Regions from separate parts of the Homo sapiens genome. Here all the other regions are linked to region 1. The links come from fine-mapping of genetic effects on gene expression. A gene starts in region 1. Each other region holds a variant in brackets. All regions are shown on one strand. Distances are between the middles of the regions.

The links. PIP is the estimated chance that this variant, and not a neighbour inherited with it, causes the effect. A credible set is the group of variants that fine-mapping cannot tell apart.
Region 2: its variant is the best candidate, but not a certain one, in a credible set for the expression of AHCTF1 in whole blood (GTEx, PIP 0.76).
Region 3: its variant is the best candidate, but not a certain one, in a credible set for the expression of AHCTF1 in whole blood (Lepik 2017, PIP 0.57).
Region 4: its variant is the best candidate, but not a certain one, in a credible set for the expression of AHCTF1 in blood mononuclear cells (TOPMed, PIP 0.54).

Annotation. Positions count from the first base shown.
Region 1 is chr1:246,929,488-246,933,652 of GRCh38, forward strand. It overlaps AHCTF1 (AT-hook containing transcription factor 1), which reads right to left and starts at 2,461. Exons shown (of 36, transcript NM_001323342.2): 1 at 2,091-2,461. RefSeq lists enhancers at 1,584-1,673, 2,794-2,843 and a silencer at 2,014-2,113.
Region 2 is chr1:246,969,969-246,974,133 of GRCh38, forward strand. All of the region lies in intron 5 of ZNF670-ZNF695 (ZNF670-ZNF695 readthrough (NMD candidate)), which reads right to left. It also overlaps a transcript of ZNF695 not described here. Among named protein-coding and RNA genes, the nearest start is that of ZNF695, 36 kb to the right of the region's middle. The variant T/C (reference allele first, on the strand shown) is at 2,576.
Region 3 is chr1:246,952,674-246,956,838 of GRCh38, forward strand. The region is part of intron 6 of ZNF670-ZNF695 (ZNF670-ZNF695 readthrough (NMD candidate)); the gene reads right to left. It also overlaps a transcript of ZNF695 not described here. Among named protein-coding and RNA genes, the nearest start is that of AHCTF1, 23 kb to the left of the region's middle. The variant T/A (reference allele first, on the strand shown) is at 2,415.
Region 4 is chr1:246,829,107-246,833,271 of GRCh38, forward strand. No RefSeq gene overlaps it. Among named protein-coding and RNA genes, the nearest start is that of LINC01341, 42 kb to the left of the region's middle. The variant G/A (reference allele first, on the strand shown) is at 1,801.

The sequences.
Region 1 (4,165 bases):
AGGAAAGATGGCACTCCAGGATGAAGGACATGAGCAAAGAAACATCAGAGTGGAAACATCTCTTCCACAGAATGAGTCCAGGATTGATGACGATTCTGGAATAGCAAAAGCATAAAATTTGTTAACATATGAGGATAGACAGTAGCATATACTTATTGTAGAGACCTTTGAGCTAACCGAGGGAAGTTACACTTCATTCTGGGAAGAAAGAAAAGTCCCTGAAAATATTAAAGGTAGGCGTGAAAGACACAACGTTTTGCTTCCTCTTAAAATATATCTGTACCAGCCGGGCGCGGTGGCTCACGCCTGTAATCCCAGCACTCTGGGAGGCCAAGGCGGGCGGATCACGAGGTCAGAAGTTCAAGACCAGCCTGGCCAATATGGTGAAACCCCGTCTCTACTAAAAATACAAAAATTAGCCGGGTGTGGTGGCGTGCGCCTGTAATCCCAGCTACTCAGGAGGCTGAGGCAGGAGAATCGCTTGAACCTGGGAGACGGAGGTTGCAGTGAGCCAAGATTGTGCCACTGCACTCCAGCCTGGGCAACAGAGCAAGACCCCGTCTCAAAAAAAAAAAAAGATGTATCTGTACCTATGAAAAAGGAGAAGCATAAAAAGAAAACAAAAGTCTCAAAACTGATGTATAACGATCTTTTTTATTTTATTTTAGCAACAGGTTCTCGCTCTGTCACACAGGCTGAGTGCAGCGGCGCGATCCTAGCTCACTGCAACCCTCGAACTCTCAGTTTGAGGCTGAAGCTCAAACGTTCCCCCCGCCTCAGCCTCCCAAGTAGGCGCGCGACTAGAGGCGCCACCAATTCCCGGTTGACATGATGTTTTAAAAATTTTTTCAAGATAATTATTGTTGTTTGCAAACTCGTGACAGCTTGGTAGTATGTTACTGAAGGATCAGGATCCAAAAATCACAGTACAGAGACAACGTAGACTTCCCATAGCGCTTGGCACACTTAAAACATCCCTTCAAGTATTAACCTTAACTGGGCTTGTCATCCCAGGTCAAATCCTCCGAAATAAGTAAACCACTCTAATTTCTTCTCTCCTAAGAGACTCTATCAGTGAAAGCTCACAAAAAAACAGTTTAAAAAAAAAAAAGGGGGGGTCTCGCCATGTTGCTCAGGCTGGTCTCAAACTCCTGGGTTCAAGCGATCCTCCCGCCTCAGCCTCTCAAAGTGCTGGGATTACAGACAGGAGCCACTGCGCCCAGCCAAAGACAGTTCTTAAAATCTACAGGTTCTTTAGGATATTCTGAGAATAAATATCGTTTAGGATTTCCCCAAAGGATTTACGTTTTGTTCTATGAAGAACCCAGTTCTTCCAAAAATTTCTACAACTGACGATTTGGAAATAAAAATAACGCTCATCTCATAAAACTTTGCACACAGATAGTATGAACCTCGTAAGCTTTGAGAACAAAATTTCCCCATCTCTCAAAACAAAACACCCAAACCAAAACAGTCAACCAGTGGCAAAAGAAACCGTCCTGTTTCCCAGGTAGGAAAAAGGAAGGCAAAGCACCCCAAGATGTGCTTTTATTTTAAATCTCCTTGATCTGACCAATCGGGTGAGCTGGAACCTCACGGCTGAGCCCCGAGTCCAACTTCTTCCCCGCCAGGACTACTCACTGTGGCCAGGCCCAAGCGCATGTGGAACACACGCCAACACAGGACAGGCTCAGCACGCCGGCCGCTTCCCTCGGGGAAAGGCCCGCCAACGAGTCCATCGCGTGGGAGAACAGTGGGAAAGGGTCGCGGCCCCGGCCGTCCGTAAAGGGACCCGACTGCCGGCGCAGGACGCGAACCACCAGCGCCGCTCCGCCGCCATGTGCCGCCGCTCCTCCGGTCCGAGATTATGTAACGAAGCCCGGCGCCCGCGAGCCTGCCGTACCCGCCACCGCCACCGCTCGCCCCCTCGAGCCCCATCCGTTGGCCCCGCGCACGCCCGGCCTAGGCCCGGCGCTCGCGGGGCAGAAGCCCCGCCGCCGCCGCCGCCGCCGCCGCCGCCGCCGCGGGTCCAGGCCGCGCGACCCGCCCTCCGCCGCGCGGGCCCAACCCCCTCCCTCCCTTCCCCCTACCTGAACGGGGCGGGTGAGCGCGCCGCCGCGGGCCGAGTCCACCGGGTCGCCAGGCCAGGCGCGAGCTCCTCCCGTGCGGGTCCGTCACAGCATCTCCCGGGAGACGTGGCCGCCACGGGCCGGGCTCACACCCCTCCGCCCGGCTGAAGCCGCTCCTCTGCGCTCCGGCCGCCGCCTGCGACCTCCCCGGCCACCTCAGAGCCACACGCCCCCGAGAGTGCCTTCGCGGGCTGTAGGCCTGCAGACCGCTCAGCGGCTAAAACGCAGTCGCTGCTCCCGCCGCGCTTCTGGGTCCTTCCCCTTGCAACGCTGCCTGCTCGCCTCGGACAGCGCCGGCCCCGCTCTGCGCATTACCCTGCGCCGACAAAACCGAGTTCCACACGCCCCGGAAGGGAGGGAGCAGAGGAAAGGGCGGAGAGGGAGGGGAGAACCGGCGGGAGATCGCGGCTGCAGGGACCAGAGTTCTCGCGATGGTTCCGCGCTCTAGCGCCGGCTCCGCGGGAATTTTCAAACTCTCGGTGAAAGAAGGAGGTGGGAGGGAAAGGGAGGAAAGAGAAGCAGGGCCTGGAAGGGCGGATCATTTACAAAAAAATCGGGTCTCTCCGCCTCCGAGGAGCTGGTGGGGAGAAAGACTACGAGTCCCACAGTGCCTTGCGCGTGAAGCCGCCCTGGCGGCCCCGGCGGCGCGCCCCGTGCGCAGTTGGGAGTGGTAGTCTTCGCTGGGGGTCGCGCCGGGCTCTGCCAGCCGCCTGCTGCGATTGCAGGCGGACTCTCTTGTCACGTAATCGTGTGGCCCTGCCAGCTGGGGGCCGAGTGATAATCTTTCTCCCATAATTGGCAGCTTGCATTCTGTATTTTCTGTTCTGTGCTCCCACTTTTCTTTTTTTCTTTTTCTTTTTTTTGGAGACGGAGTCTTGCTCTGTTGCCCAGGCTGGAGTGCTGTGGCACGATCTTGGCTCACTACAACCTGTGCTCCCGCTTTTCATGCCAAAGGTGGGCTCCCAGACTTCTGGGGAAACGCTTTTTCCACGGTGCTGTTTTTTCTAGCATCCTCCTGTGCTTTCATGGCCAAAAATGCTCGCGCAGCCTAGCCTAATCTTTTTAGTCAAAATTTTACCCCAAATCACTGTTATCTTTTTGGTCACCGCGGGTTTTCATTGTGGAATTTCTTATTTCTTGTTAGTATCTTCCTTTGAAGCAAATCCCAGCGCCAAACATGTTTCAAACAGATAGGGAACGTATCCTTAATACTAAGTAGTAAGTAAAAGGATTATAACATGAGGTAGAGTAGGGATTTTAAGAAGATGCTCTTTTATCAGGAAAGTTTCTACTTTTCTGTTACCTTTCATATGTGCTTTTTAAATTTTTTTATTTTTGAGACAGTGTCTCGCTCTGTCGCCCAGGCTGGAGTGCAGTGGTGTAATCAAGGCTCACAGCAGCCTCGAACTCGTGGGCTCAAATGATCCTCCTACCTCAGCCCTCCAAGTAGCTGGGACTATGGGCATGGACCACCATGCGCCACTACGTCCCATTAATTTTTTTATTTTATTTATTTATTTATTTATTTATTTATTTGAGACGGAGTCTCGCTCTGTCACCAGGCTGGAGTGCAGTGGCACAATCTCGGCTCACTGCAACCTCCGCCTCCCAGGTTCAAGAGGTTCTCCTGTCTCAGCCTCCAGAGTAGCTAGGACTACAGGTGTGCGCCACCATGCCCAGCTGATTTTTGTATTTTTAGTAGAGACAGGGTTTCACCATGTTGGCCAGGATGGTCTTGAACTCTTGACCTCGTGATCCACCTGCCTCAGCCTCCCAAAGTGCTGGGATTATAGGCGTGAGCCACCGCGCCCGGCCTTATTTTTTATTTTTTGTAGAGACTGTCTCACTGTGTTACCCAAGCTGGTCTCTACTCCTGGGCTCAAGAGATCCTCCTGCCTCAGCCTCTCAACGTGCTGGGATTACAGACATGAGCCACCATGCCCAGCCTATTTTTATTTTTGTAGAGACTGTGTCTTGCTGTGTTGCTCAGACTGGAGTGCATGGCTATTCGCAGGCACTATGGCCTCATCAGTGCC
Region 2 (4,165 bases), 40 kb after region 1:
ATGAGATGTGGGTGGGAACGCAGAGCCAAACCACAGGCCTTGTAAAGTTAGAGATACTTAAAGAGTCAACTTGAGTATCTTCTCCTAAAATCCTTTCCAGTATTGCTATCATAGCACTTAGTATAGAGAGCAGCTCTTTTAACACAGGTGTTTTTGAGTTTTAAATTACGCATTAATTCAAAGTAAACTAGTGTTAAGAACAAATCAGTAACTTCTGTTCCGACAGTGAAAGAGTGATTGAGACAGATGTTCCCCTTCTGGCATAGACAACTAGAAAACTGACAAAATATACGAAACAACTGTATTCAAATATTAGGACTGTAGGTAGTGTAAAGTGTGATCTCGGAGAGGAGGGAAACAGAGGTGAGCCCTACAATCACTCCAGTTCTTTGTCTGCAGGCAATTTTCGAGTTGTTGTGTAAGGAATCCAAACAGAGCCCAAGAGATCTTGCTGAGTTGAGGAAAGACTGGAGGTGGGGATGGCTACGGCAGTTTGCAATTTGTGAGGCAGAGTATTGAAGAGGAAGAAGCTATGTAAAGAGAGCTCCAGAAATCTGCATACGAGTCCCCTTGAGACTTGGCATGAATACTAATCTGGCATGTATAAGGTGAAACTCACCAAGCCTGGCAAGGAACAATTAATTGACGGGAATCTATAAGCTAAACAATTCCCAAAGCTGACACAGGGCTGGTAAATGTGAGTTCCTAACAGGCAGAGTGGAGAGCCCTTGTTGAAGACTTAGGGTGAGGAGTAAAGACCCTTAGTAGAACGGCTAAAAACAAAGTGTTTTGTTTGTTTGTTTGTTTTTGTGTTTTGAGACGAAGTCTCGCTCTGTCGCCCAGGCTGGAGTGCAATGGTGCAAACTTGGCTCACTGCAACCTCCACCTCCCGAGTTCAAGCGATTCTCCTGCCTCAGCCTCCCGAGTAGCTGGGATTACAGGCATGCGCTGTAGGGTCCAGCCCTATTGGGTCTGTGGGTTTTTCTCCTTGTGTGCAGAGACGAGAGATCGTAGAAATAAAGACACAAGACAAGGAGATAGAAGAAAAGACAGCTGGGCCCAGGGGACTACTACCACCTAAATGCGGAGATGGGTAGTGGCCCCGAATGCATGGCTGCGCTGTTATTTATTGGCTACAAGACAAGTTGGCAGGGTAAGGAGTGTGAGCCATCTCCAATGATAGGTAAGGTCACACGAGTCACCTGTCCACCGGAGAGGGGGCCCTTCCATTTGGTAGCCCAGGCAGAGAGAGAGGGCAGCTTACATCATTATTTCTTCTGTGCATTTCAAAGACTTTAGTCTTCACTGATTCTGCTACTGCTATCTAGAAGGCGGAGCCAGTTGTACAGGGCGGAACATGAAAGCGGGCCAGGAGTGTGACCGCTGAAGCACAGCATCACAGGGAGACGGTCAGGCCTCCGGATAGCTGTGGGTGGGCCTGACTGATGTCAGGCCTTCCACAAGAGGTGGTGGAGCAGAGTCTTGTCTAAATTCCCCAGGGAAAGGGAGACTCCCTTTCCTGGTCTGCTAAGTAACGGGAGCCTTCCCCAGGCACTGACGCTACCGCTAGACCAGGGAGCCCTCTAGTGGCCCTGTCTGGGCATGACAGAGGGCTCACACTCTTGCCTTCTGGTCGCTTCTCACTGTGTCCCTTCAGCTCCTATCTCTGTTTGGCCTGGTTTTTCCTAGGTTATACTGTAAAACAAAGATTATTATAATATTGGAATAAAGAGTAATGCTAGAAACTAATGATTAATGATATTTATATATAATCATATCTGTAATCTATTTCTAGTATAACTATTCTTATTCTATACATTTTCTTTATTATACTGCAACAGCTTGTGCCCTTGGTCTCTTGCCTTGGCACCTGGGTGGCTTCCCGCCCACAGTGCACCACCACACCCGGCTAATTTTTTGTATTTTTAGTACAGACGGGGTTTCACCATCTTGAACTTCATCAGGAGTTCAAGGCCAGGCTGGTCTTGAACTCCTGATCTCAGGTGATCCATCCACCGGGGCCTCCCAAAGTGCTGGGATTGCCTCAGCTCCTTCCCTCCCCCGGCTCAGACAACTTGCCCCTGAGGGCAGGGGCCTGCTGGTTTATTTAAAATGGATGGAGCCCAACAAGTGCAGAGAAGCGCAACCATGCAGGGAGAAAGCACTGTAGCAGGTCGGTGCTCCGCCTCCTCTTGCCACTGACTGCCGACTGAAGGCCACTGGCCTGTGCCTACTAACCAGGCCTCCTAGGTCACCTGGTTACCAGAAACCAATCACTCCTAGAGTTCCTGTCCCAGGCACTTGGCTCACAATGCCCTGTGGCTACCCAAACCGGTGGCTGTCCCCTCCCACAGCAACCCCCCAAGTGGTTGCCCTGCCCCACCATAATTCTGATTTTCCTTCCTTTCTGGCTGCTGGGAGCTTTTAAGTTTCTGCGTTGTTATGAAGTCTCTCTGGATCATCACCTTACAATGGATTATGCTTAAATTACTACTGTAATCAAATCTAAGTCTTGTGCACTACTGGGAATCCAAAAAGCCTCCTCTCCCCAGTGGCCTCTGAGTTTTTTTTGAGA[T/C]GAAGTCTCATTCTGTCGCCCAGGCTGGAGTAAATGGCGTGATCTCGGCTCGCTGCAACCTCCACCTCCCGGGTTCAAGCAGTTCTCTGCCTCAGCCTCCCAAGTAGCTGGGATTACAGACACCTGCCACCACGCCCAGCTAATTTTTGTATTTTTAGTAGAGACAGGGTTTCACCATGTTGGCCAGGCTGGTCTTGAACTCCTGACCTTGAGTTCTACCCACCTTGGCCTCCCAAAGTGCTGGGATTGCAGGCGTGAGCCACTGAGCCCGGCAGCCTCTGGGTTTTTTAGAAACGCAAAAGAACACCGATTTCTGCAGGTGCTTTCAGAAAAAAAATTTGTCATGAGTCAAGTCTACTCTGTGATGTCAACTTATATTTTTAATGTGTATATATATATATATATATACTATATAAATTCTTACATATTTCTGAAAATATCACACACATTAAATCAAACAGAAGAGTAATAGGAAATTTCCTAAAATGTGTACACTAAGAACATATATATATATATATATTTTGAGACGGAGTTTCACTCTTGTTGCCCAGGCTGGAGTGCAATGGGGCAATCTCGGCTCAACGCAACCTCCACCTCCCAGGTTCAAGAGATTCTCCTGCCTCAGCCTCCCGAGTAGCTGGGATTACAGGCATGCGCCACCACACCAGGCTAATTTTGTATTTTTAGTAGAGACAGGGTTTCTCCATGTCAGTCAGGCTGGTCTCGAACTCCCGACCTCAGGTGATCTGCCCGCCTCAACCTCCCAAAGTGTTGGGATTACAGGCATGAGCCACCGTGCCCGGCCGAACGTCACATATTTCTAATGATTGCTTTGATAGAGCAACTTAGAATCTATGGTTCCAACAAATAAGGAGGCTTATGTAAAGTAAAACCACTACATAATGTGAGATTATACATGTGATTATCATTGCTACTTGCGACCAGCAATTATCATGTGAATGTGTACCGTGAGTTGCTATGTGGCTATGGTGATTTCATCTTTCTGATCCTTGATTTAACTATAAAAAAATGATTACCACAGACTTTGTTTGCTCTAAAAATTAAATGAGAGAAGGATGATACTCTTCTATGTATTAAACACAAAATTACAGGCATTTTGCCCAGATTCGTACACAATTATCTTGTTTAAGCCTCATAACAACTTGAAAAAGGCATCTTTTATAGATGAGAAAAGCGAAGATCAGAGGGGTTAAAAACATATCCACAATCACATAATGATGAATGATGGAATTGGGATTCAAATCCAGGTCTGATGGACTCCACAGCTGGTGCATCTTAAGAACCAAATTATATCCCACCCATGTAGGCACTCAATAGATGTGAATTCCCTTTTATTACCCTATTATGTGTGAATGTCAGTGCCTTTCATGGCCTCAGTATAACCGTTCACTCCCTCCCAGGTTGCCTGTCAGTGGTTTCCTTCTTCCTGGAGATAATCAAGAATTATTAATTATTTTAAGTATTTTTAAGTATTAAGTATTTTTTCATAAGCAGATGTGCTGATAATGTAAGGCTTGGGTAATGAAATTTTCCAGGCCATCCATTGCTAACTTATTAATTGCCTAGCTT
Region 3 (4,165 bases), 23 kb after region 1:
GTAGCTGGGACTACAGGTGCATTCCAGCATGCTGGTGTTATGCTTCCTTTATTCTCCATATTTAATTCATCTTTTATTCCTCAACAGTATTCAGCAACTTCTTTTCAGAAACTATTGATTTTTGGCCAGGTGCAGTGGCTCACATCTGTAATCCCAGCACTTTGGGAGGCTGAGGCAGGAGGATCACTTAAGCCCAGGAGTTCAAGAGTTCAAGACCAGCCTGGGCAACATAGTGAGGCCTTATCTGTATAAATTTTGTTTTAAAAAAGAAATTATTGCCAGTCTCAGCCACAATGAAGGAAACCTAGGAAAGGATGTGACCCTACTTGAGCCACAATTTAGAAGGGCATGTCCACCCCACAATCCTCTGAGGTTCCCAATGGCTGGACTGTAATACTTCCCTAGGCTTTCGGTGTAATACTAAGTTTGTTCTACTCTACTAGATATTTTCTTGTCATACGCTCAACTTCAGGCCTCCTTTGGAGGGAGGCTTAAGGGAACATTGGCAGATTCCAACGTATTTAAATAATTAACATGACATTCCTAGCTATTGTTTTATTCATTGATGAATTTTGGAATGTCATTACAAATTGTAAATTTGGACCTAGATGCTGATTGCTTATTTTCAGAAAACCTACAGAATAACCTCAGTAATAAAAACAAAGTGGGCCACGCCTGTAATCCCAGCACTTTAGGAGGCCGAGGCGGGCGGATCACGAGGTTAGGCGACCTAGACCATCCTGGCTAACATGGTGATACCCCGCATCTAGTAAAAAAAATATAAAAAATTAGCCAGGCGTGGTGGCACACGCCTGTAGTCCCAGCTACTCGGGAGGCTGAGGCAGGAGAATCGTTTGAACCCGGGAGGCAGAGGTTGCAGTGAGCCAAGATCGCACCACTGCACTCTAGCTCTGGGTGACAGAGCAAGACTCCATCTCAAAAACAAACAAAAAAACAACAAAGAAATGGGCCCTGCGTAGTGGCTCACGCCTGTATCCCAGCACTTTGAGAGGACAAGGTAGGTGGGTCACCTGAGGTCAGGAGTTCAAAACCAGCCTGACCAACGTGGTAAAAATACAAAATTACTACTAAAAATACAAAAATTAGCTGGGCATAGTGGCAGGCACCTGTAATCCCAGCTACTCAGGAGGCTGAGGCAGGAGAATCACTTGAACCCAGGAGATGAAGGTTGCAGTGAGCTGAGATCACGCCACTGCACTCCAGCCTGGGCGACAGAGTGAGACTGTCTCAAAACAAACAAACAAACAAGCAAAAAAAAAAAAAAAAAGAAACCCGAAAAACAAAGAAGCCTAAAAACTCAGGGTAAGTGTAGAGCTTGGGACTCTGCTAAGACTCAACAGTGCCCTAGAGGATAGCCATTCAGTATTATCATAAATCCTCAAGTCTTCCATTTTGCCATCCTTAAAACAACTGTTTCTGAGCACAGGGACACTGGCACATGAATGAACGAATGACTTCAGTTTGTCCTCAACTGTCTTGCCAATCAGGCCAACCTTAAAGCTACAGAAGGAGATTGTCCTGAATTTCCCTGAGAGCCAACGGCACTAACAACTGTTAAACCAGAAGAATAAAAACCCAAATATTGGCACACACTCCCCAAACATGTTGTCCAGCAGTTGAAAGCCAAGGACAGGAACAGGCAATGCCTGCCAGCTGTTCCAGGGGAAAGGGTCCAAACTGATCTTAGACTCAGCTTTGCTTGAGTTCAGCCCGAATTGCTGGAGAAGATCCACCAACCTTCCAGTGGCCTAAGATTGATCCAAAACTGGCAGTCACCGTTCCCCAAAGGTGATACTATTATTTCAGCTCTCACAAGAAAACCCATGTAACTGGAAGATGAAGAACAAAAATCAGGATAACACAAGATTCTGATTGTCTTGTCTAATGTACAGGATTTGGAATCAGGCTTCTATATATGGAAACCATGTGTGTCTAGAGCCTTAAGTTTCATGCAAATTCCTGTAAAATGATCACTGATCAGATCATCTGTAAAAATGTGGAATCTGGATTAGACGATCTCTCAGGCCACTTCCAGCTCGAAACTCTGACTTGCTATCTCTATATTCTTATAGGGTTTTCTTGCTCACTAAGTTTTTAGGAAAATAATAACTGAGAAAATAAAAATTTAATACAGTCATACAGTCATCTCAGGATACATTCTGAGAAAATCATTGAGTGTACTTACACAAATCTATATAGTATAGCCTACTATACACCTAGGCTATCAGGTAAGGCCTTGATATGGTTTGGCTGTGTCCCCACCCAAATCTCATCCAAATCTCATCTTGAATTGTAGCTCCCATAATCCCCACGTGTCATGGGAGGGACCTGGTGGGAGGTAATTGAATCATAGGGGGAGTTTTTCCCATACAGTTCTCACGACAGTGAATAAG[T/A]CTGCACGTGCTTTCTTGCCTGCCACCATGAAGATGTGCCTTTGCTCCTCCTTCACCTTCCACCACGATTGTGAGGCCTCCCCAGCCATGTGAAACTGGATCCATTAAACCTCTTTTTCTTTAAAAATTACCCAGTCTTGGGTATTTCTTCATAGCAGTATGAAAATAGACCAATACAGGCCTATTGCTCCTAGGCTACAAACCTGTACAGCATGTTACTGTACTGAATAGTGTAAGGAAATCATCACACAATGGTAAGTATTTGTGATAGAAATTTTTCAGCTCTATTGTAACCTTAGGGGATCACTGTCGTCTATGAGGTCCATCATTGACTGAAACTGTTATGCAGTGCTTAACTGTATTATGTGACAAAATGTGTATAAGTAATTTTATTTAATTAAGAGTAGAAGCTCTCCCGCAGTGTTCTCATATACTCTAAACTCTAAAATTATCATTCTACTCAGTATTGCTGATCTCTTCATTGAGCTTGTAAACAAACACCTACACAGAACAGAACTAATTAATTTTAATCTAAATCCATTTTCTTTTGTACAAAGGAGGCTTTTTCCCCAAGATTTGTTTCAATCCTTTAGCCTAAAATGATAACGCCCTATATTTACCTAGCGATGTTAACTTTTCAAAGTCCGTTCTTTTCTACCATCTCTCTAGAATGTAGGCTCCTAAGAGTACTACTGTCTTCTGGACAATGTCCAGCACACAGAAGGTGCTCAGTGAGTCCCAGCTGAAGAAAGTGAATATGATGCTCACAAGAACTCCCTGGGTAGACAACGGTCTCATCACTAACCCCTTACTTGACAGATTTAGGTACGGAGGCACGGGAGCCAGATGAGGACATTAACCAAAGATACCCACATGCCAGATATTAGTTTGGATTGGATTTTTTTTTTTTTTTTTTTTTAAGACAGAGTCTTGCTCTGTAACCCAGGCTAGAGTACAGTGGCATGATCTCGGCTCACTGCAACCTCCACCTCCTGGGTTCAAGCAGTTCTCTGCCTCAGCCTCCCAAGTAGCTGAGATTACAGGCTTCGGCCACCAGTCCCGGCTAATTTTTTTGCATTTTTAGTAGAGATGGGGTTTCACCAAGTTGGCCAGGCTGGTCTTGAACTCCTGACCTCGTGATCGACCAGCCTCGGCCTCCCAAAGTGCTGGGATTACAAGCATGAGCTACTGTGCCCGGCCGATTGGATCATTATTTTTAAAAAAATCTATAAAAGATGGTCATGGGGGCCGGGCGCGGTGGCTCATGCCTGTAATCCCAGCACTCTGGGAGGCTGAGGCAGGCAGATCACTTGAGGTCAGGAGTTTGAGACCAGCCTGGCCAACATGGTGAAACCCCGTCTCTACAAAAAATACAAAAATTAGCCGGGCCTGGTGGCAGTCACCTATAATCCCAGCTACTCAGGAGGCTGAAGTAGGAGAATCACTTGAACCCGGGAGGCAGAGGTTGCAGTGAGCCGAGATTGTGCCGCTGCACTCCAGCCTGGGGGACAGAGTGAGACTCTGCCTCCAAAAATAAAAAAAAGATCATGGGATAATTGGGGGTATGTTAATATTGAATTGCCCATTCTATGTTATTAGATATCATGAAACTATTATTGTTATTATTTATTTTTATTTTTGTAGAGATGTGGTCTTGCTGTGTTGCCCAAGCTAGTCTTGAACTCCTGACCTCAAGTGATCCTCCCACCTTGGCCTCCTAAAGTGCTAGGATTACAGGCATGAGCCACTGC
Region 4 (4,165 bases), 100 kb before region 1:
GAGACTTACTGTGATTTTCCTTATTCTACTTAGGACTTATTGCTCTTCTTAGACCTGTGGGTTTATAGTTTCCATCAAATTTGGGAAAATTTCAGCCATCATTCCTTCAAGTATTTTTTGCACACACGCCCCTCCCATTCTTTCTGTGACTCCAATTACATGTAGAGTAAGATTGTCCCACATGTCACTGAGGCTCTGTTCATTTCCTCCCCATAACTTTTTCTGACTGTTTCTCCTTGTCTGTCAAAATTCAGCCTAAACATCATACCCTTTATTAAACCATTCACCAGATATCCTGTCTAGATTGAATGACCACCTCACCTTTGTACCCCACTGTATCCCATACATCTTATCACAGAGCCTGTAACATCTGAGTGTACTTTTTTCCTGTCTCCCCAAACCAAATTGTGAGCAACTTTCAGGCAGAACAGTGCATGGCATATGATAAATGCTCATTAAAACAGAAGTTCTCAGATGCTAAGTGCCTCATACAGTTTGCTTATTTTGCTTATCTCAAGGAAGCAAAATATAATTGACTTGACTGTCATACCTTTTTCAGTGTGTCAATACATTGGCAAATGAACTGATTTGAGTATCTAAAAATTACTTAGGCCATAGCTGTGTTTTTGGACCTCACGTTCAGCATAGAAAAGGAGTAAATTTAAAGTGAAATTCTCATATGGAAACATAGATTTATGCTTGCATAAAATTATTATACTTTCACACTGTGAACACATCATCAAAAACAAAACAACAAAAAACTGGCATTGAAGCTGTGTTTTAAAGCAACTTACCTGGCCTGCAAATTTACGACTAGGATCAGCTGAAATAAGGACACCATCCTTATCCCTTTGAAATCCATTGTGAGACCAATATGCCAGGTCAAAAGTAAATGTCTTCACATGCTCTGGATTCTTAGGGTCCTGTGTAGTGGTGGTAGTTCTGGAATGCATGGAAATCACACATTTGCTCCCAGAATTCTTCTCTCTCTACAGTCAAATTACAAATTCGGAGTCAATCATTCCAGTTTCTCTTTGTTATCCAAGTTCATTGTTTTGCAAGTCTTTATACCTAGTAAGAAATTAAGCCAAGAACTTACCCTTCCCTCAGTTTGTTCTCTAATTGTGTTACTTTTAGCAGCTATTATGACAAGCAGTTGTTCCTGTACTCCCTCGGAATTTTTGAAAGGCTTGTCTCTAGTCACATTAACTTTCTGAGAAGAGCTGGCTCTCTAACACCCAGGTATACTAATAACAATAACTACAGTAGTGGAGATACTGACTTCCTGCATAACTGGTGAACTCCCCAGTAAAACTAGTGAAAAATTATCCATTAAAAAATGAAAATGAAGAAAAAAAAACACTTTTTAATGGTCCTAAGGACAAACAGCACATGAAGAAACATCTATTCATGGCCGGGCGCGGTGGCTCACACCTGTAGTCCCAGCACTTTGGGAGGCTAAGGCGGGCGGATGACTTGAGGTCAGGAGTTTGAGACCAGCCTGGCCAACATGGTGAAACCCCGTCTCTACTAAAAATACAAAAATTATGTGTGTGTGATGGCAGGTGCCTGTAATCCCAGCTACTCAGGAGGCTACGGCATAAGAATAGCTTGAACTTGGGAGGTGGAGGCTGTAGTGAGCTGAGATTGCACCACGGCACTCCAGCCTGGGCGACAGAGTGAGACTGTCTCAAAAAGAAAAAAAAAAGCATCTATTCAAGAAAATGTACTAAAATTTGGTAAGAAAAGAGTTTGTGGTATTTGAAGCAAGATCATTCCTTTCCTTTCCCTGCCAGCTCA[G/A]GAAGGTGGAGATTCCACTCTGGACAGCTAGAGCCAGTAACACAGGGTTCTGTCTCTGCTCCAGATCGCAGCTGGAGGACTTTCTTCCAGGAAGATCAAGATATTAGCATTTCTCATTCTGCCTCTCTCTACCTGTTAGTGAGGCCAAGTGTCAGGTTAATTGGGGGTCTCCCTTTCACACCCAGCTCTCACTCGAGGAATGGAGGCTCTATTTTGGTTGCAGCATGCTGAGCTTACTGGAGTACTTACCACTTTTGCCCTGGGTCCTGAGAGGGTTCAACACCAGGAGAGACAAGCTGAGAGGACCTTAGGCTAGGACCCCACCTCCACTGAGGACTCAGCTCCTAGAGCAGGTGTCATCTGAAGAGCAATTGACTATTGTTCACACATCCAATTCCAGAGCTCTGGCTTAGAGATTTTGCCTGGGGGATAATTAGGCCATACAACCCATGGTGCCTAACATCTCTTCCTAAAGGAACTGACTTCATTTGTAACAGATTGGGGAAGTTCAAGCCTAAGGATGCCCTCGAGAATGGTGGAGGTTGTGATGAAAGACAACTGAGAAAAGAGTCAAATACAAGTAAAAGTGTATGCCCTCTAATTTGTGGGGATGAACTGGAGAATAAGATAGCTGGAAGGTCAAAAAATATCAAACACTGGTTTTAGAAACGATTCCCTGCAAAGGAAGCAGAATTTGATCAGATTCACTTGTAAAGCAATTTATACCCCAGGACATTGTTGAAAACAATAATCAGCCAGCAAATAGTGAAGTTTAACAGCTGGGCATGGGCAAGGAAAGACAGGAAGGGGGCCCTACCAAAACCATTGTTCTCCCAGCGTGACTGGGGCAGACCCAAAACTGTGCTTCCCTAAGGAACAACGGTGGGGGCTGGGGGACATAATAGACTTTACTAAAATAATTCAGCCAGTCACTAAACAAACTGGCAAATGAAAGTAACAAGCCACAGAGGAGACGCAGAGCTAGGAGCTGCTACAATATATCTACAATGTCCAGTTTCTAAGAAAAAATTAGGAGGCACGCAAAGTAACAGGAAAGTATGATCCATACACTGAGGAAGAAACAGGTAACAAAAACAGAGTGAGCAGATGCAGGATTTATCAGAAAAATACTTTTAAAGTAGTCATTATGAATATATTCACAGAATGAAAGAAAACTATGATTAAAGAAAGGATTATAAAGGAATACTTTGAACAAATAAATACCAACAAATTAGATAACTTAGATGAAATAAATTCCTACAAAGGCAGAAATAACAGAAATTGACTCAAGAAAAAAATCTAAATAGACCTAGAACAAGGGAAGACATAGAAGTAGAAATGCTGGCCGGGCGCGGTGGCTCACGCCTGTAATCCCAGCACTGTGGGAGGCCGAGGCGGGTGGATCACGAGGTCAGGAGATCGAGACCATCCTGGCTAACATGGTAAAACCCCATCTCTACCAAAAATAGAAAAAATTAGCCAGGCGTGGTGGCAGGTGCCTTTAGTCCCAGTTACTTGGGAGGCTGAGGCAGGAGAATGGCCTGAACCCAGGAGGCAGAGCTTGCAGTGAGCCAAGATTGTGCCACTGCACTCCAGCCTGGGCGACAGAGTGAGACTCTGTCTCAGAAAAACAAAAACAAACAAAAAACTACATGCCGGGCACGGTGGCTCACACGTGTAATCCCAGCACTTTGGGAGGCTGAGGGAGGTGGATCATGAGGTCAGGAGTTCGAGACCAGCCTGACCAACATGGTGAAACTGTGTCTCCACTAAAAATACAAAAATTAGCCGGGCGTGGTGGTGGGTGCCTGTAATCCCAGCTACTCAAGAAGCTGAGGCATGAGAATTGCTTGAACCCAGGAGGTGGAGGTTGCAGTGAGCTGACGCTGCGCCACTGCACTCCAGCCTGGGTGACAGAGTGAGACTGCGTCTCAAAAAGAAAAAACACAATTACAAACCATTATCTCTTATGATTATGCGTGCAAAAATCCTCAACAAAATACTATGAAACTAAATCCAGCAATGTATAAAAAGAATTGCATACCACGACCAAATGGAATTTATCCTAGGGCTTCAAAGTTGGTTCAACAACGGAAATTATTGTATTAATCGTATTTTAAAATTTTCTGTATATATGAAAAAATATATACATATGTATAGAAGCTTTGAGACATTTGCTTCCCCACATTACCAATCATGATTATGTCATAATTATGAGTAGCTGTCTTTTTTTTTTTTTTTTTTTTTTGAGACTGAGTCTCGCTCTGTCACCCAGACTGGAGTGCAGTGGCATGACCTCGGCTCACTGCAAGCTCCGCCTCCCGGGTTCACGCCATTCTCCTGTCTCAGCCTCCCAAGTGGCTGG